Homo sapiens: one gene and its partners. The protein of the gene in region 2 interacts with the protein of the main gene of each other region in a biochemical or structural test. Each region holds a gene or a part of one and is shown on either strand. Other genes may lie near its edges.

What was found. Proteins that work in one complex are often made in the same cells at the same time.
Region 1: the proteins of TACC3 (region 2) and NDEL1 form a complex in vitro, tested with the Homo sapiens proteins (one study listed by BioGRID).
Region 3: the proteins of TACC3 (region 2) and ARNT form a complex in vitro, tested with the Homo sapiens proteins (2 studies listed by BioGRID, with this or other methods).

What each region holds. Positions count from the first base shown.
Region 1 is NC_000017.11:8,438,862-8,445,887, reverse strand, and holds part of NDEL1 (nuclear distribution protein nudE-like 1), read right to left. Parts: intron 1,962-7,026; exon of another isoform or gene 1,739-1,961; coding exon of another isoform or gene 1,712-1,738; intron 1,629-1,711; coding exon of another isoform or gene 1,617-1,628; coding exon 1,531-1,616; intron 178-1,530; coding exon 24-177; intron 1-23. UniProt on the Homo sapiens protein: Required for organization of the cellular microtubule array and microtubule anchoring at the centrosome. May regulate microtubule organization at least in part by targeting the microtubule severing protein KATNA1 to the centrosome.
Region 2 is NC_000004.12:1,724,495-1,731,520, reverse strand, and holds part of TACC3 (transforming acidic coiled-coil-containing protein 3), read right to left. Parts: intron 3,814-7,026; coding exon 2,734-3,813; intron 635-2,733; coding exon 559-634; intron 350-558; coding exon 220-349; intron 1-219. UniProt on the Homo sapiens protein: Plays a role in the microtubule-dependent coupling of the nucleus and the centrosome. Involved in the processes that regulate centrosome-mediated interkinetic nuclear migration (INM) of neural progenitors.
Region 3 is NC_000001.11:150,831,596-150,838,621, forward strand, and holds part of ARNT (aryl hydrocarbon receptor nuclear translocator), read right to left. Parts: intron 4,899-7,026; coding exon 4,685-4,898; intron 3,046-4,684; coding exon 2,943-3,045; intron 805-2,942; coding exon 739-804; intron 309-738; coding exon 223-308; intron 1-222. UniProt on the Homo sapiens protein: Required for activity of the AHR. Upon ligand binding, AHR translocates into the nucleus, where it heterodimerizes with ARNT and induces transcription by binding to xenobiotic response elements (XRE).

The DNA.
Region 1 (7,026 bases), on a different chromosome or scaffold from region 2:
CCAGCGTCTACTGCTGCAATTACCTTTAATGCCTCCACTTCATATTTCAGTCTTTGGTTATCAGCCTGCAAGTCTCTATTTCTTTGTTCAGCCTGTACTAATTGTGCCTCCAACTCTGCTTCTAATTCTCTGCTTCCTTCCTGGAATTCAACTAGCTCATCCCGAGCTTCCTGGAAGCTAATCAGAAACAAAGTGGGAAAGACGAGTTACACTAAGAACCACAAGGATTGTCTTGGAGGTGATTATAGAGCAATTCGATAATTTTTGCTTGAATGCTAATGCTCTCATAAAATATACTAAAGACAATCTGTTTTGCATCTCTTACTGTATATATTCAGGGTTCAATGAAAACGACAAGCCCAAAAAGGAGCCACAAGTCAGTGATTACAATATTTATGAAAAGTAAGGCTACGTGGCTCAATACCATTAGCTTCTTCCACCACAGAACTCAGATGCGAGAAAAATGCATTTTTACTTTCATTAAAGTAACAAATTTGGCATTTCCTTCTACCATATTCAACAGAAATCACACATATTTTCACATCACAATAGAATCGTTGCATGTATCTCTAAATATATTTATTTTCATGACTATTTCAAAATTAGGTAGTTATTACATTCACTTCTGTATCTTTTTTTATTTAATGCATTAATAGAGAAGTACATGTTACTATGCCATAAATTAGTTTAATATTTAGATAACTTTTTTCAATATAATTGATTTTCTTTGTAATTCTATTATTCTATGCATTTAAAAATATTATGCTGAGGAGTCCACAGGCTACCCCAGCCCATTAAGACATCTATGACACAGAAAAAGATTAAGAACCCTGCCATAGATACACACCTTTCATATCCACTGGCACAATAGAATAACTGACTTCGGTGATAATAATGAAAGGGCAGTAAAAGGTTTGATAAGACTTAGTAAACTCTGTTAACCAAAATAGGAAAATGTATCAATATTTTATTTAGCAAGATCCCATTTTTAAAAAAGAAATTTGAGACAAGTTTTGTTGCTTAAAAGGTTGTTGCCTGAAAGTTCTCCCAACCAAATAACTGAAATTTTATAAAACGTTCCATGCCCCTGAAGCTTCTCCCCCTCCCTCAAAGCTTTGCTGGCTCCAGACACTGATCATGCTTGCCTGAGGAGAACGTAAAGTCTGTTCTATGGAGCCCCAGACAGCTTATCAGAATCTCCAAATGACCAAAATGATGAGGCAGAATCAGTGCATGCAAAACGGGCCAAAGATGGCCCCGCCTACTAAAAAGCATAGAACAGGTAACAATCAGAAGAAATCATAAATGACAGTTTTCCTACTATTTTAATAATTTGAACAATATAAAGACTTATGGCATGTTTACACTATTTAAATACAACCCATGTGGTGACTGTTTGTAGAATCTCAATCCTAGAATCCTAAATCTGCAATTCTAAATTTAGCTTTATGTTAAAAAGAAAAATGCACAAACAAGACACGGTGTATTCCAAATGCCCTCCCCTACTTTTAGTGTGCTTTCCAACATTACCTTTGCTTATACTTCAAGGAAAGTTCCTTCCAATAAGCAGTTTCCTCCTTTAAACTTGAAAAATCTGGTATATCTTCACCATCCATGATCAAGAAAGCCTGTGAAATATTAAAGACAAACTTAACAAATTAGAGAACAGAGAAATCTAAGCACAAGCATAAAATCTGGGACAACACTGAACTGCAGCATTTTGGAGGGAATAAAACATGAGAGATTCCAGTGGTTAACTCTCTTCAAACTCAGGCACGTCAATCACTCCACTGCTCCACTCTCAGGGACCACCAATATTGTGAATGAGATCATGACAAAGGTCCTTTGATACAAAGCGACAGGAGGCACTTTTGGTTGCAGCATAGGCGCTGGGTGACTTGGGCCCACAGAATCATCCTGCACACAGAGTTGCAGCAGTTGGTTTAAGGCCACGTGGTCTTCTGCGAATCGGGAGACAGAAACAAGCTTATTGTCAGAGATGCTGCTACCGCATGCATGCTGCCCTTCCCAGGTATACAACTGCTTCAAAACATCTGCTTGGAACATTTTATGCCAGGTGACCCTACTAGAAAATCAGGCACCACATTCCCAATAATTTACTATTATCAAATCTCTAAAAACCTCCTGTTAATCATCTTTTAAGTCCAAAGCTTCCTTCCAAAAGCCCACTAATCTCCAACTTCAATGATCTCTCTCTCTCATCCTGGTTCTTCTCTCCCAAGGCATTCAGAGAGGAGAAAAAAAGCGATTTAATTAACTAACATTTGGACTGGCTACCTACAACTCCCAACTGATCGTCAGGCCCACTCTAGAGGCATGCCTACTGCTTCCTAGCACCCCCTCCCCAGGCATCCCACTCTATATTCTGGCAGTACTGTTCGAAACTGTCTTAACACACCAGGCTCTTTCAGGCATGGAAAACTACTCCAGGTTTTCTCTACCTGGAGTGGCTCCCCTAAATAGGAAAACTACTATTTATCCTTAAAACCTAATTGTCATCTTTTCCAGAGAGGTTTTCTTGCCCTCAACTGGACAGCATTAAAATCTCTTGCATTCTTTGCTACCTCTGTACCCCACACATGCTTTCACTGATATTATTACCACAGGGCAATGCATTTGCTTACACCTTTGTGTTGCCTGTTAGGCTGGCTTACTTATTTCCGTCTCAGCCCAATGCCTGCACAATAGTGGATACTCAATGATATTTACTGAATTAAACCATAATTGATTCAACCTATTCCATACTAGGCAGCAAGAACTCAAGACCAGCTTTAAAAGTAAATTAATAGGCTAGGTGTGGTGGCTCATGCCTGTAATCCCAGCACTTTGGGAGGCCGAGGCGGGCGGATCACGAGGTCAGGAGATTGAGACCATCCTGGCTAACACGGTGAAACCCCATCTCTGCTAAAAATACAAAAAATTAGCCGGGCGTGGTGGCAGGCGCCTGTAGTCCCACCTACTCGGGAGGAGAATGGTGTGAACCCGGGAGGCGGAGCTTGCAGTGAGCCAAGATTGCGCCACTGCACTCCAGCCTGGGGGACAGAGCGAGACTCCGTCTAAAAATCTAAAAAAAAAAAAAAAAAAAAAAAGTAAATAAATAAAAACCTGGAGATGCATAGAACTTGGAGTTTATCTAGCACAAGCCACTCAGGAAGGTTTAGCAAAAAAAAAAAAAAATCTTTTTAAAGGAATGAACGGTTAAATCTCTCCACATCATCAAACATAGAACACAGTGGAAGTTCAATAAATATTTGAATTGAGGCTGGACACGGTGGCTCATGCCTGTAATCCCAACACATGGGGAGGCTGAGGCAGGAGGACTGCTTGAGCCCAGAAGCAATGAGGCTGCAGTAAGCCATGATTTTGAGGCTGCAGTGAGCCATGATTGTGCCACTGCACTCCAGCCTGGGCAACACAGCAAGACCCTGTCTCTAAAATAAATAAATAAATATGTGAACTGATTTATAATCATCCTTTCAATATTCCCTCTTGACTTTCAAAGTACCACTTTATTAACATCTGAATTCCTACTTCAGGAATGGAGTAAGCAAAAAGATGTGCGGGTAGTTTACTTCCACCTTACAATGTACCACCATATATTAAATCAATATTAGAAAACCTATCATTATCAGTTAGACAAAATTATTAATCCGATACATGGGCAGCCACATTCAGTCACTGACATAGGCTCAGTACAGGCTCCACATCAAAGAATAGGGAGTTGATGGGATTTATTGGGAAGAACCTTAGAGATAACCACTGCACACTAGCTACCTCAAATCATCATTATCCGGCCCTGAAATATAAATGGACAACCAAGAGCCATCTGACAAGTAAGAAAACCCAGTAGCATGAATAAGAAAATTTTAGGACCTAGTGAACTGAGAGGAAACAGACAATTCAGGAAATGAGATTTTTTCTTATACAAGAACTCAGAAGGTACTAGACAAAGACTTAAAAAAAAAGGTCAGGAGGGCTACCTCCTACACACTTCCTGAGACAAGTACAAAAGAAGGGAGAAAACCATGACCTGGACAGCATGGGATGCAGGAAATAGGGGCTCCAACCTAGGGCTGCAATGAAAAGTCCCAGGATGAAGCCTAGTCCATCAGGCCCATAGAATGCTTCAGACGGATGACACCAAGAAAAATAAGGAATCCCATAGAACAGATAGCATAGAGCACAAGTGAGAAGCTAGATATATTTGAGGTTGTGGTGAAGACATGTTACTCTACTGTCACTAAGAAAAAGAGAAATTTAAAAGCTCAGGAAAATAAAAAAAGCAATAGAAGAAAGTCCTGATCCTTATATAAAGCATTTTGTAAGTTAATGATTTCAAGTCTAAAACTTGTAATGTATTGATTTTATCTTATTTGAAGCAACTGGGATAAGTTCCATAACTTTATAGCCATCGATGAACTTCCTGTTTTTGGTCTTAGCTTTGCCCTGAGTCCCATGTGCTGCTCTCTTGGAAGGTTCCAGGATTTGGCGAACAAAATTGTATTCTCCTTTTTTATGTCCCCTCTGGTTTTGTAGCCTTTGATGATAATACCTCTCAGCCTTGGTCTTCCCAAAGTGATTATTTCTTGCCTTTTTAGCCTATAATGATTTGGCAGCCATCTCAGTCCCTTAAATATTTTGTTATGCTTTGTATTGCCCCTAGATTACCTATCTGCCTTTCTGGGGCTGAGTGCCTAGTGCTGCTTCTGTACTGAACATTTTATTCACTGGTCAGATCATTTTTCTTTTGAGTTTTCAGTACTCTTTCTGTTACTGTGCAGCATTTGATGATATTGCTAGTAGTGTGGCCCATGAACCGGTATCATTATGGAAGTTCCTAATGACTGTTAGATACCTTCCTTGGCATCTAACATTTATTTGAAGGTGTTTGAATGTGGGGCCAATTCTTCTACGAAAAGAGTTAGGATTGTTTTGAATCTCTAAATGTTATTCAGGAGTCCACTTCAAAACATTTCCATGTGGGGGTATTTTTTGTTGGTTTTGACCCATTTATATAGTATCAGAGGACATACTAGCAGTTAATGCTTTGAAGAGCACCTAGTTAAGTAGTAATCCCTGAGGAATAGCATTGTTTACCCCTCTGGATGTATTGCGAGTATCCATTTGTCTCTGACTTCTGGTTCTTGTACAGGGACATATTCTTAATACAACACCAACTTTTCCATGAGTGTCCCCTGATAACTCAGGTTTTTAAATAGCCTTTTGCATGAAACTTTTTGAGAATCTAGTTCTAGCCCTTGCATCCTCTTTGTCCAACTACTTACATTCAGTGTCAAGTAATTCTAGCAAAATTATTTTACTTCACACACATTCTTTTTTTTTTTTTTTTTTTGAGATGGAGTCTCACTCTGTTGCCCAGGCTGGAGTGCAGTGGCACAATCCTAGTTCACTGCAACCTCTGACTCCCAGGTTCAAGCAATTCTCTTGCCTCGGCCTCCTAAGTAGCTGGGATTACAAGCACCCACCACCATACCTGGCTAATTTTTGTATTTTTAGTAGGACACGGTTTCACCATGTTGGCCAGGCTGTCTCGAACTCCTGACCTCGTGATCTGCCCTCCTCGGCCTCCCAAAGTGCTGGGATTACAGGCATGAGCCACCGCGCCTGGTCACATTCTTTATTTTCTTGCTGAATCTCATGTGAATTGAATGTTGACCACAACTTTTCTAATCAATAGGCTATTTTCATAACCCGCTTATTGGCCCCTCTAACAGTATTATAACCTATGTTGGATATCATTTACTAAAAGGACCATCATCTCTTCCAGATCAAAACAATTTAAAACATTTAACCAAGAATAAGTCATAGGAGCAGCATAGCATAGTGGTTAAGAGCCCAGACCGGGAAGCCAAACTGCCCAAGTCTGAAGTCAGACCTGGAAGTTCAGACTCGCTACTGATGCATCTACTCACTACTTGGGTGACCTTGGGCAAGTGACTTAATGACTCAGTGCCCCATTTCCTCACCTGTAAAATGGGGATAATCATTAGAATGAGCTTATGAAGTGAGCTAATATTTGTAAAGTACTTAGGACAGAACCTGGCACATAGTAAAAACCTAAATGTTCATCAAGCTATTAAAAATTGGTAGTTCGATAGCAGACCTTTCAAGTATGACCACAAAGTAAACAGGCTTCAAAATTTAAAACATGCAAATGATTCTTTAAAACTGATCATTTCAGGAATATATGCATATTCCAGTGATATCACCATTGCTGAAAAACATTTCCAAAACTTCTTTTTTGGAATAGCCTTTATGAGCCACATTAAGAACAAAGCAGGCGAACAAAGCAGGCCAGGCGCGGTGGCTCATGCCTATAATCCTAGCACTTTGGGAGGCTGAGGCAGGCGGATCACTTGAGGTTAGGAGTTCAAGACCAGCCTGGCCAACATGGTGAAACCTCGTCTATACCGAAAATATGAAAAAAAAAAAAAAAAATTAGCTGGGTATGGTGGCCGGCACCTGTAATCCCAGCTACTCAGGAGGCTGAGGCAGGAGAATCGCTCAAACCCGGGAGGAGGAGGTTGCAGTGAGCCGAGATTGGCCACTGCACTCCAGCCTGGGCAAAAGGGTGAGATTCCATCTCAAATAAAAGAAAAAAAAAAAGGCCGGGCACAGTGGCTCACACCTGTAATCCCAGCACTTTGGGAGGCCGAGGCGGGCGGATCACGAGGTCAGGAGATTGAGACTATCCTGCTAACATGGTGAAACCCCGTCTCTACTAAAAACACAAAAAACTAGCTGGGCGTGGTGGTGGGCACCTGCAGTCCCAGCTACTCGGGAGGCTGAGGCAGGAGAATGGCGTGAACCCGGGAGGCAGAACTTGCAGTGAGCCGAGAGCGCGCGACCGCACTCCACTCCAGCCTGGGTGACAGAGAGAGACTCCGTTTCAAAAAAAAAAAAAAAGAACAAAGCAAAAACTTCTTACTTTGTGGTCACACCTCATCTTTATTGCTTCCTAACTGGTATTATCCAGCTCTATTG
Region 2 (7,026 bases):
TTTCTAGAAGTCTTTTATGTTAAAGGTATGAGCCCTGCTCTCCTAACACTGACTAAGTTTTGACAAACCACAAGTTTGTGCATGAGTCATTCAAAGTCAAGGGACCCAACTGCCTGCGAAATGACCACCTGCCGATGATGCAGGTGTCTCGAGCTGCCCAAGTGCTCACGGGATCCCCTCCGGGCAGACTGTGTGTGACGTCTGTGCCAGGCAACGTACCCTCAGCGGGGTCTCTGAAGCTCTCCTCTTTCAGCTCCAAGGCAGGCTGCCCCTGCTGATGGGTGGGCACTGGCTCACTGCCTGGACAGCTTGTGGGAAGCGAGGTGCTGGCAGAGTTCAAGGCTCTCTCCTGGAGGAAAGGGCAGAGTCACCCTGTGCAGTGCAGTCAAGGTACTTGGGGTGTGGCTTTGCCTCCCCACAACCTTGTTGAAGTAGACTTGGGGGAGAGGGAGCGGGACATCCCACCCCGTCACCCAAGGCTGCTGGGGGCTTCCACTGCCTGCTACTCTTCTACACGACCAGGCCAGGAGCACAGGTACCCACACAAGCACCCCTTACCTTGCTCTCTGCTGTTGGGGTCTCGGCTGCCAACTGCACCACAGGCGTGTCCTCCGCTGAGGCTGAATGCAGCTGCCTGGGGAGACAGAGTCAGCAGAGGCCCATGCCCCCCACCCCATAACCCCGGCGTCCCCTGCTCCAGCACTGAGCTGCCATCGCCTTTCCCTGCACTGCTGTGCCGGCCACGTGAACATTCAGCTAGAGCGTGCCAGGCATGGGGCTGTCCCAAGCGACCTGGCCACAAAACTGCCTCACCAACCTCACCCAGCAGGAAAACACGCGCCTTGCCTGCCAGCTCTGGGAGAAGCAGGCTGGGAGCTCTAAAGTCAGCACGATGCAGCCAAAGGGAATCACAAGGATGAGTACATCCCTTTTACTGTGAAACTGACAAAAGGCTTCAAATGTGGAGGCTGGGGCAGGTGTGGGCAGCAAGCCACCCAGGGGCCAAGGCAAGACACCAAGGGCACAAGCTGTTCCAGTATCATAAATATACAGAATAAGAATAGTTATACTAGAAATAGATTATAGATATGATTATATATGAATATCGTTAATCATTAGTTTGTAGCTTTACTCTTTATTCTAATATTATAATAATCTTTGTTCTACAATAATAACCTAGGAAACGCCGGGTGCGGTGGCTCACGCATGTAATCCCAGCACTTTGGGAGGCCGAGGCGGTCGGATCACGAGGTCATATCTAGACCATCCTGGCTAACACGGTGAAACCCCGTCTCTACTAAAAAATACAAAAAAATTAGCCGGGCATGGTGGCGGGTGCCTGCAGTCCCAGCTACTCGGGAGGCTGAGGCAGGAGAATGGTGTGAACCCGGGAGGCAGAACTCGCAGTGAGGCGAGATCACGCCACTGCGCTCCAGCCTGGGTGACAGAGCGAGACTCTGTCTCAAAAAACAAACAAACAAACAAATAACCCTAGGAAAAACCAGGCCATATAGAGATAGGAGGTGAAGGCACACGGTGAGAAAGTGACCGGAAGAGGTGTGTGAGCCCTCTGTCACGCCCGGACAGGGCCACTGGAGGGCTCCCTGGTCTAGCGGTAACACCAGCACTTGGGAAGGCACCCGTTACCTAGCTTGGTCTAGCGGTAGCACCAGTGCCTGGGAAGGCACCCGTTAATTAGACTGGGAAAGGGAGTCTCCCTTTCCCTGGGGGAGTTAGAGAAGACTCTGCTCCACCATCTCTTGTGGAATCAGTCAGGCCCGCCCGCAGCCATCCAGAGGCCTGTGTCCCTGTGATGCTGTGCTTCAGCAGTCACGCTCCTGGTCCACTTTCATGATCCGCTCTGTACACCTGGCTCTGTCTTCTAGATAGCAGTAGCAGAATTAGTCAAAGTGCTAAAGTCTTTGAAATACATAGAAAAAATAATGGCGTCAGCTGTCCTCTCTCTCCGCCTTGGCTGCCAAACAGGGAAGGGCCCAGTGGACACGTGACTTGCGTGACCTGACCTATCATTGGAGATGGCTCACACTCCTTAACCTGTCCCCTTGCCTTGTATCCAATAAGTAACAGCGCAGCCAGACATTCGGGGCCATTACCGATCTCCGTGCCTTGGTGGTAGTGGTCCCCCGGGCCCAGCTGTCTTTTCTTCTGTCTTTTTCTTGTGTCTTTATTTGTACAATCTCTTGTCTATGCACACGAGGAGAAAAAACCCACAGACCCAGTAGGGCTGGACCCTACAGGCAGGACAATCTCCCACTGAGCAACTCTAGGAGATGTAGCCTAAGACCATTCAGCCAGGAGGCAGCAGACCCACGGCCAAGACCCCAGCAAGCAGCGGACGCCACCCAGGCAGTAACAGGCTTTGCCTGGCTTTTGGAGTTACACACCCAAGTCAAGTTCACCTGAGGAGGAACATGACTGGGGGACAGGGTCCTGCCCAGGGTTGGTTGCATTTGGCTTCTGGCCTGAGCCCGCCCTTATTGGATCCCTCCTTAGGCCAGGAGCACTAAAGAGATGCATGGCAGCCAAGGCAAGGCCAAGCACCCTCAGCTGGGAGCCACCTGAGCCCTGTTTTTATCCAGAGGCCCCTCCTCAGGCAGAACCTACCCGGCCTCAAAGGAGTATCTGATGACACTTCTGGCCTCGGGTCCTGGACCACATACACTGCAGGGCAGCTGCCCCACGCCACGCTCCCCATCCCATCCTCACACTTACTGGCTCAGACAGGGACCTGGCTCCTCCGTGGCAGGCCCAGCATGCAACTGTTCAGCCGCTGGCTGGCCCAGCCTGGTCTCAGGGCTTTCTGGGGGCTGGGCCTCACTGCAACCAGACTTGGTGTCACCTCCGAACGGGATGAAGTTTGGGTCATCCATTTTGTCCCAGTCGAGGTGGTAAGAGCCCCGAGAAGCTGGCATGGGGGGGTCCTCTCCTGCTCCGCTCCTACCGTCGTCCTCCTCCACCTCCTGCGGGGCCTTTTGCTGCCTCACTGCTGCTTTCCTCAAGGGAGGCTTGAGGCCGGACCTCTCTCCCAGTCTCCTTGGTGGGGGTGCCCTTTTGCTGGTGGCGCCATCAGATACATCAAATTCTAGTTTTACAGGTCCGCTCCTCGAGGAGCTGGCCATTTGGCCTGCAGCCACTTCTTCCTGAGGACTCAGGGTCATGGCCCTGCCAGCCACCAGGTGGTTGGTTGGGGCTGTGCTCTCAGGAGCAGAGGTGTGTGCACAGGTAAGGGTCTGAGTGCCATCTGCTGGCACGGGGGTGCCCACACCCGCAGGGCAGCCCAGGGCTTCGCCAGGCAGACCCTGCAGGGGTGCTCCTCCGCAGGCTTCCTTAGGGATTGCACCAGGAGGCGAAGTGGCCACTGCTGCGGGAGCACAGACCCCACCGTGCCGGCATTCCTCCTCGGCTCCGTGCGGAGTCTCCGCTTTGCATTCTTCCTCGGCTCCGTGCGGAGTCTCCGCTTTGTGCTGGGACTCTGTCCTGCAAGGGTCTTCTAGGGTCTCAGAGGCGGGTGTCACTCTTCTGTCTAAGGAATAGGAACTAAGGTTTTCCTCCACGGCTTGCTCAGGGCTGCCAGACACTTTTCCTGGAGACACCATTTGGTTCTCAGAACTTCCTGGGCTCTGGGAAGAGCTTGAGCAGTCCAGGTCAGCCAGGGCACCTGGGCCAGACTCGCTGGAGCTGCCACTCCCAAAGGCTGGGCTTGCATCCCCCAGGAGGTCGGTGTCAGCCTCCACTGGTTTCTGTAGAATTCCATGAGTAGTTTTGGCATCCACTTCCTTGATGAGCTGTTGGCTTTTAAAAGAGACTTAATCAACGTGAAGCAGCGAGTACCTGGTGAGGTTAGGGGCCTCAGCATTCATTCTCAACATAGGTTTAACATTCTCACACCAGAAGCAGGGCTGAGTCACCCTTGGCACGGCTTCCCGTTCTCCACCCCCCACCTCAGTTCCTCAATGTAGTTCCTTCCTGTCCTCCCAGGGACCAGCTCCCGGTGGAACGGCTGGACACAACCACGTGACTTCCTCGCTGACCCCGCCCTCATGCTTCTTGGGGTTCCAAGTTACAGGGGTGCCTCTGGGCTGCTTGCCTGTTTAATTGTGCTCATCACGCGCTTTGCCAGGTGCTGGACCCAGACTCCTCCAGCAGCCTCTGCCACCCAAACAGCACTCGTCATCATGCACGAGGTCTGCCCCCAGGCCCACAGCATGCACACAGCACAGGCTGCTGCCTGGGGGGTCAGATGTGGGACAGCACACCCAAATGCCTCAAGCTGATGCCAGAGAAAGAAGCCTGGAGGCATCTCTCCCACCTGGTAGACTGGGCTCCTCAATTTCCCACCACTTCCTTTATTTTTATGTTTTTTTTTTTTGAGACGGATTTTTGCTCTGTTGCCAAGGCTGGAGTGTAATGGCATGATCTCGGCTCACTGCAACCTCCACCTCTGGGGTTCAAGCGATTCTCCTGCCTCAGCCTCCCAAGTAGCTGGGATTACAGGTGCCCGCCACCATGTCTGGCTAATTTTGTTTTGTATTTTTAGTAGAGACAGGTTTTCATCATGTTGGTCAGCCTGGTCTCAAACTCCTGACCTTAGGTGATCCACCCGCCTCGGCCTCCCAGTGCTAGGATTACAGGCAGGAGCCACCGCACCCGGCATCCACCATTTCCTGTAAAAAATCCATTCGAGCACCTGCCCACCAGCATACAGTGACCCCACCCTACTCCCCGATAGACAAGGCTGGCTGCCACCCTCTCAGCTGTCCCCTGCCTATGCTCCAGGGCCTGGCCCCAGTCCTCTGTGTGGCCTCCAGCCTGCTGTGGGCCTGTAAGTCATATAATCATTATTTCCGCCTGTGTTTCTCCTAATCACTGAAGGGTGTGCACCACTTAATGACCCTGAATTCTAACATTAAGGGACCTGACAGCATTCCGATAACACTTTAATCTGCGTGAAAACATCAGCTACAAGCAAAACAAGAAAGCTCAGTCAACATTGTCCTGTGGCTTAAACCTCACCCGAGGACATGCCCAACAGATCAGTCCTGGGGACTTGCAGGCCCCAGGATGGCCAGCAGGGGGCGTGGTAAACAAAGGTTTTCTGCATGAATCTGCTTTCCCCTTCAAGTCGGGGACTGGCAGTGCTGTGGCCAGGGACAGTCAAAGCCTTCACTGAAGGGCAGGGCTGAGGTGCAGGATGCCACCTGCAGGCACAGAAGGACCTGAGTGGCCTCTGCGACGCCTCCCTGGGATGGCGCCTGCTACAGTGGAGTGGCACAGGTGCAGAGAACACCTTCCCAGGGACCCACCTGTCTCTGGGGCACTCGCTGCTCACAATGTGGGACTGCATGGCGCAGGGCCCCTGACAGAAGAGGCGGCTGTTGGGATGGTTGGGGCTGGACTACAACACAGAGGGCACAAACACTGTTTCACCTGTTCCCCAGCCTTCAGGTCCCTGAGAAGACGCAGGGTCATGTGCCAGTGCCTCAGATAAGGGGCCCATGTCACCTGCCCTTCTCTTCCAACTCTAAGTTTGAAGATGTCAAAACTGAGAAACTGAGGGTGAGGGACCTGTCAGACTGCTCACAACTCCTCTGCTGCCCAGCTGCCACCTTGGGGCGGCACTGCCTTCCCAGGCGGCCACTCGGCTGTCCTCTGAATGACACGTGGGCAGCTGCACGCAGCGGCTGCTCTTGGTCTCATCCCACTGACGTGGGAGCACCACAGTGACCACCACCTGGGCCTCAGCAGAGTTCCAGAAAGGAGATGACAGCCACGAGTCCAAGCCACAAGCTCAGAGTCACTCTGGCTGGAGCCCCTCAGGGCCAACCTCTCAAGCCCCTCCCAGCTCCTCTACACCCTCTGCCCTATGGAGGCTGCTGGGTGATCCTGGAGGCATAGGGGAGAGGCAGGGGATCTGTGGCTCTGGGACGGATCACACCCATGGCAGCTGGGAGGCGACTTCTCTGCTGCTGGGTCTCCCTTCCTTCTTGGGGTCGTTGTAAACCAATGTTTGATTCATTCTCGCTTCGTTTGACCAAATTTCAAAAGGGGCAAAAAACAAAGTTGAAAAGTAGCAAGCAGACATGGGAAGAACTGCAAATTCAGGCTGGAGGGGTAGAGGGGAGACGGACCCAGGGCCCAGAGAAGGATGTAGGAAATGCTGCCTGCACTTACTGGTGACATTTTATCTCAGGGGGTGAGAAGCATCAGTGGTATTCTGTTCCTTATGCTTTTCTCTGCACATCTAAAATCTGCTTAAAAGTTTTGGGCCAGCCGGGCGTGGTGGCTCATGCCTGTAATCCCAGCACTTTGGGAGGCCGAGGCCGGCAGATCACCTGAGGTCGGGAGTTCAAGACCAGCCTGACCAACACGGATAAACCCCATATTTACTAAAAATACACAAAATTAGCCAGGTGTGGTGGCGCATGCCTGTAATCCCAGCTACTCGGAGGCTGAGGCAGGAGAATCGTTTGAACCTGGGAGGCGGAGGTTGTGGTGAGTTAAGATCGCACCATTGCACTCCAGCCTGAGCAACAAGAATGAAACTCCGTGTAAAAAAAAAAAAAAAAAAAAAATTGGCCGGGCATGGTGGCTCACAGTTGTAGTCCCAGCTACTAAGGAGGCCAAGGTGGAGGACTGCTTGAGCCCAGGAGGTTGAGGCTGCAGTGAGCTGTGATGGCACCACGGCACTCCAGCCTGGGTGACAGAGCGAAACTCTGTCTCAAAACAACAGCAACAACAGTTACATCAGCAAAAAACCAACAGAAAATCATGCCTCTGGGGTCCCTTCCCACCCTGGATGCAGATGAGGTGTTCCTGGGTGCCCAGACAGATTAGTTCAGCCGCAGAGTAAAGAGCTGCCACCAGGATCCTCCCTTTCTAGGCAAAGACAGACACCGCCTCGCCATCCACTTGCAGTTAAGAATCAGGTCGGCTAAAAAATTAGCCGGGAGTGGTGGCGGCGGGCGCCTGTAGCCCCAGCTACTCGGGAGGCTGAGGCAGGAGAAT
Region 3 (7,026 bases), on a different chromosome or scaffold from region 2:
AGCCAATACTGAATCATTTTCCAGCCTGAGTTATCTATCTCCTCAACTGGAATAAAAGCTCAATAATGGAAGGGAAGGATTGTACATTTTCTTTTCCTATTTTCTTTCATCTTACACAAAAGTACATTTCATATACCAGGTATATAATAAATATTAGCTTTCATGGACTCTGTGAGGAACCAACTGTACCAAGGGGAAATATTTACTATTTCACTTTCTTACCTGCTGGGGGCCAGGCCTTGATGTAGCCTGTGCAGTGGACCACCACGAAGTGAGGTTCCCCATCCTTTACAGAGCCAAGTCCATTCCTAGAAGAGTTACAGGAGTTTGAAAAAAAAAAAAAAAATCTACCCGTAAAACTCAAAGGGCAATGCTGCCTTAGTACTTTTAAGTTTATGCTCTTAGGAGTTTAGAAAACAGGATAATCATCTTTCCCACCCAAAAATGACCGCCACATTTTTACCCTTGCCAAAGTAAAGTAACCAAAAGGTATGCAGTAGGAGGAAAGTAGGTAAAATAGCATAGCGACTTCCTTAAACAGGATTTTCAAGAGAAGTTTTAGAAGTTTAGGAAAATATTGCCAGAAAAAAAGTAAGTGGGAGGTAAGGGATGTTAAGTGGGAGGTAAGGGATGCAAGTGAGAGCTGCTGAAGGAACGACTACAGTAAGACAGGTAAAAATGTGATGATCTCTGCAGGTATTTGGCCATCCCTTTGGTTTTCACCACTTAGGATCTCACCTGCATCTGTTCCTCACAAAGCTCAGCCTATTCACAGAAACTGGGTCCACAGAGCTACTGCCACACCTGTTTCAAGGAATAAAGAGATTAAAAGCAATCAGACTGCCCTATCAAAGAACTTTCCACAGTAATAGCAGAATAACATGCTCTGGATACAACCAGACATAGAAAATTGGTAATGCTACTAATAATGAAGGATAAAGATAGGTCAAGTTTAGTATTTCTAAAACTTTTAGAATTTGAAGTCAAAATGTTCCATATGTTCTTCATATGCAAACATTCTCAACATCAAGAGTTGGCAAGCTTTTTCTGTAAAGGACCAGATAGTACATATTTTCAGCTTTGCGGGCCAGAAAGTCTGTTGCAACTAGTCAACTCTAGCATTATAGCATGAAAATAGCCATAGATAATATGTAAAAATATGGGCATGGCTATGTTCCAATAAAACTTTATTTACAAATAAAGGGCTGTGGTTTGCTTACTCCTGCTCTACATTAACCACAACTTAATGTAATTGCTACAGTTCATTATTATCTTGCTCTTGCCTATGTCTTTGCATTAGCCATGTCCACATATTGGGATACTCCTGCCAATGCTACTTTCCCTCTCCCTATCCTTTAAAACAAAAATAAAACTTACATAGGGTTAATATGTGTCATGCTCTGTTCTAAATATCTTTACATATATTAATTCATCTAATCTTCATAACAACTTTATAAAGTCAGTATTAACATTATCGCCAATGTGAGATGATGAAATCAAAGCACAATGTAGTCATGTAATCATCCAAGGTTTCAGAAGATAGCATCAAAGCTAGAATTCAAATCCATAGAATATGGATTAAAACAAAATCCAGCAGTCTGGGTCTAGAAGCTACTCTAAATTACACGCTGGGTGCAGTGGTTCAGGCCTGTAATCTCAGCACTTTGGGAGGCTGACGCAGGCGAATCACTTGAGGTCAAGAGTTTGAGGCCAGCCTGGCCAACATGGTGAAACACTGTTTTACTAAAAATACAAAAATTAGCCAGCTGTGGTGGCAATCCAGCTACTCAGGAAACTGAGGCATGAGAATCGCTTGAACCCAGGAGGTAGAGGTTGTAATGACCCAAGATCATGCCACTGCACTCCAGCCTGGGCAACAGAGCAAGACTCTGTCTCAAAAAAATAAATAAATAAAAATAAAAATAAATCACTAAACCACATAATGTTCAATTTTGTGCCTCTCCAAGCAAACCTTTAATATCCTACCCATAATTTCTAGCAACTATCCTCTCAGTACAATGTAGTCAATTTCCATTATATAGCCTGAACTTTGTGACCCTGAGATGCCTTTTGTACCTGTATAGAAAGGACCACCATATTTTCTACAGAATCCTAAAACGTACAGTATATAATTTATAAACACTAAACACCTACTGAAAGACATAGGAAGTCTCAAATTTCTAACCAAAAAAAAAAAGAAGAAATGGTCTGAGTAAATGGATATTGCCTTGTGTTGTAACAGGGAAAAAGTAGAGGTTTTGTAGTCAGACTACTATGAATTAAAACAAAATCCTGTATCAAACAGTATGTAACAGTGGGAAATTCATTTCTTTTTCTTTTTCTTTTTTTTTTTTTTGAGACAGAGTTTCACTCTTTTTGCCTAGGCTGGAGTGTAATGGCACAATCTCGGCTCACTGCAACCTCCACCTCCTGGGTTCAAGCAATTGTCCTGCCTCAGCCTCCAAGTGGCTGGGATTATGGGCGCACGCCACCACGCCCGTCTAATTTTGTTGTTGTTTTTTTTTAGTAGAGATGGGGTTTCACCATGTTGGCCAGGCTGGTCTCAAACTCCTGACCTCAGGTGATCCACTCGCCTCAGCCTCCTAAAGTGCTGGGATTACAGCCTTGAGCCACTGCACCTGGCCAAGTTCATTTCTTTATATCTGTTTTTCCATCTGCAAAATGGTAACCATCAATCTTACACTACAAGGCAATTGTGAGGATAAAATAAGATGACAGATATAAAGCACCTATCATAGTGTCTGGCAAGTTCAGAAACGTTAGTTCCCTTTCCAAATACTTTATTCTGTGTTACAATCCATCTGGGTATGGAGAGTTAAATTTAATCCACTGGAGCTAATCCAACTTAACTCTGACAGAAATAAAACTCTCAGCTCTTGATCCTTCCTATACCAAATCACAATCCTCAGCTTGACACTCACCTCATTCGGCAAATAAACGATCTCCTTGAGCCCATACACATTCTCATGGAAGACTGCTGACCTTCCTTTTTCACTGTTCCAGTCTTTAGATCCAGGATACGCCCTGAAGGAAGATGTGAAGAGCAGTCTGGAGTGCATTTTTGTGTGTGGGGAAGAGGGGGAGAGATACTGAAGGCAAAGATAAGTAAGCATCCTATTCATGCCCTTAATCTCCTTGCTTATAACAGAACTGACCAAGCAGGAGATGAATTTTTTTTCAAGCCTAAAATACTTCAATTATCATCAATGAATCTCACTCTTAAGTTCAAAGGCAGCATTGAAAATAACATTGTGCAAGGAAAAGTAGGAGTGGAAAGTAGTAGTAGAAAACAAGAGGCAAGGCTATATTCTCATAGCTGATTATCTGTATACACATACAGACATACATACAGAGTAAATGTCATTGGTTGAAAAACAAGTACTTTTCTGTAGTCCCAGCTAATCAGGAGGCTGAGGCAGGAGGACTGCTTGAGGGCAGGAGTTTGAGGCTGTAGTGTGCTATGACTGTGCCTGTGAAGAGTCACTGTACTCTAGCCTCAGCAATAAAGCAAGACCTTGTCTCAAAAAAAAAAAAAAGAATAAAAAGAAAAAATTTTAAAAAGAAAAAAACCAAGTAATTTTATATGTTATAGAAACATATAGATCTGTTTGTCTTCTTTATTATACAGAAACGAAGAACAACTTTTGGGGAAAAGGAAGAACTAGAAAAATGAAATCATAAAAACATAAAGGAGGGGAAAACTGGTCAAGTGTGGTGGCTCATGCCGATAATCCCAGCCCTTTGAGAAGCCAAGATGGGAGGAGGAATGCTGAAGGCCAGGAGTTTGAGACCAGTCTGGGCAACAGACAGAACCTGTCTCTACAAAAAATTTAAAAATTGGTCAAGTGTGGTGACATGAACTACTCCTAGCTACTCAAGAAGCTGTAAGCAGGCAGATTACTGAGCCCAGAAGAGTTCAAGATTACAGTAAGCTATGATGTGCCACCGTACTCCAGCCTAGGCAAGAGAGAGACCCTGTCTCTTTTTTGGGTGGGAAAAAAGGAGGAAAACTAAAGATCAACAACACTAATATGAGTATATTGAAATTTCTTGCATTTTAACTACCAGTTTTTTTATCTGCTTCCACTTTAAATTTTTTTCTAGAGTTGCTCAAGAATAGATATGACTTGTTTCCTCTAGCCAAACTCTGGCCAAAAGACTGAACATAATAAAATAGGGGAGAAAAAAAGAACAACAGTACAGATACAAACAACAACAACAACAACAACAGAAAACACCTTATACATTGACCAATAACCATATCTATAGAATAAAAAGCTGTTATCATTGAACCTAGCACAAAGCCAAGCACCAGGAGGTAGAAAAAATACCAGATAATTATCCATACAAATGAGATAAAAACATGGATAATTCTTTTAGAACGGAAAAAAAAAAGTATTGTAGGTTTGGCTTTTACTGTTCTATTTATACCAATATTAAGATAAATGTAAAATATTATCACCAATGAAATATTTTCTAAGGCTGAGCCACAAAGTAGATAATCTCATATGGATAAAAAGAACTGACTATATTCATTAAAGTAGAAAATTCTTGAAGCCTTGCCAGAGTCAACAAACCAATTTAACAGCTAAAACATCTCTTAAGTCTCAGGAAAAAAACAAGAAAGGACTTCTCATTCATTTCCCATACACATAACTCTCACCTGTCAGGGCATTTTCTGAAGTGGAAAGCTGCTCACGAAGTTTATCCACATCATCTGGGTGCACCTGATCATAGAGTGTGCTGCCAAACCATTCAGACTGTGGCTGGTTCAAAACAGGAGTCACGGAGTCAGACACATACACCACCCTGCCTGTCTCACATGAGACAATAAACAGAAAGCCATCTGCTGCCTCCAAGATCAAATGTTTCAGTTCCTGCGCAAGAAAAAGAAATAGAAGTTAATATTTTACTCTGAAAAAACAAGTATTTCTATTCACAGGAAGAAGTAAGACACTTCAGGCCACATGCATCTCTCCGTAAGCAACTGCTGGTTCACACCTGATCCACAGCCACAGGTTTCCACCCTAAATGTAGTTCATCGATAAGAAAGTTTTTTCTAATACATGTTTCCTCACTTTCTCTATGTCACTATCCACCTCTTCCTCTCTATCTCAGGATTCAAGAAGAATAAAAAGGCTTGGGCTAGGCACAGCGGCTCCCGCCGGTAATCCCAGCACTTTGGGAGGTCAAAGTGGGAGGGTCACTGAGTCCAGGAGTTCAAGACCAGCCTAGGCAATGGGGCGAAACTCCATCTTTACAAACAAACAAAACAAAACAAAACAAAAACAAAAACAAAACTAGCCAGGTGTGGTGGCACACGCCTGTAGTCCCAGCTACTCCGGAGGCTGAGGTGGGAGGATCACCTGAGCCTGGGAAGCAGAGGTTGCAGTGAGCCGAGATCATACCACCACACTCCAGCCTGAGCGACAGAGCAAGAGACCCTGTCTCAAAAAAAAAAAGGCTTACCATGAACAATAATTGACTTCTTAATTCCATCCTCTCTGGTCTCTTTTTAGGATCTTGCTTGACAAATATTCCCACTTTCTCTCTTTCCCTTCAGGCCTATAAAAATGATCAAGTTTTCTCAATTCTAGATAAATCTTCCCTCAGTTTGACCCACCTCATCTCTCTTTTTCAGCAGCAAGCTTATACTAAGAATAATGTTATATTCACTGGCTTTATCCTCTTACCTTTCAATTATTTCTCAATCCCACTTCACTCTCACTCTAAACTACTGTTTTCCTGTTTGGTTTGGTTTTTGTTCTGCCAGGAACAGCATACATATATTTTTAATGAGGTTACTAATGTCCTCCTAATTACCAATTCAAGTCCCTTTTCCTGGGTCTTCATCACTTTATTCAACCTCTCTGCAGAATGTGACAATGTCGTCCATCTTATCCTTTAAATTTTATTTTTCCCTACCTTCTTCTATGAGACTGTACTCCAATTTTTGCTTCCTCTTCTGTTTCAGACTTCCTTTCCTTTGTTCAAGTCTTAAATGTAGACATTTCCAAAGTTCATCTTAAGCCCTCTTTATTAATACCATACTTTCTTCCTGGGAAACCATATTCACTCTTCCCCACTACGAAATAATAACCAAGTCTATAGCCCTAGACATGACTAACGTTTTTTCCTGAGCTTTCAGCAGACTTGAATTTCAAGTATCTGTAAAATATTTATAAATATTCTACCAGCAACTCAACATCAACATCCCAAAACCTGAATCATTATTTCCCTCTTAAAAAAAAAAACCTGCCGTGCTCTTCCAATATTCTTAACAGCATCCTCCTAAGCTAGAAGCCTCAAAATCTAACTATTCTCTCACATTCCAGTGATAATTCAGTTTTATCGATTCTACTTTCCAATGCTTTGTCACTGTCCTAGTCATCTTTTACCAAAACTAATTAAGTAGTCGCCCTGCTTTCAATCAATCCTTAAAATGCTACCAGATCTAATACATTTTTTATGTCTCCCCACTGCATAAAAATTAAAATCTAAATTCTTTAACACCTAAACATTCCATCATTAGATCCCAGCCTACCTTCCTATTATCTACCAAAAACATGCTAAACCACTTGACTTTCTTTGCATAACCCAATTATTCCACACTTCTAGGTTTTTGCTCAAGTGCTTCCCAAAATCCACAACACTACTCCCCAACTCATTTTCCATATCTGCATTTTACAGGATTCATTACAGCACTTCTATTATAGAACTAGTTCTATGTTTAATTTATTTATTTACATGTCTGTTTCCACCAGAAAACCATTTGTCTCACCATTCTTTCTATTTCTCACAGCACAACACACCTGGTTTGCCCACAAAAGGTGCATAACTGGAGTCTGTTGAATACTTGCACATGTACTGTTAGAACATATTAACTATTTCAATGTATATAGCTACAAAGTATGTAGTTTTAAGTAGACCATCCTATTTGGAAAATTCTTATTCCATTTTCTCAAACTATATTCTCTCCTTCTTTCTAATCATTTGATTAAATTG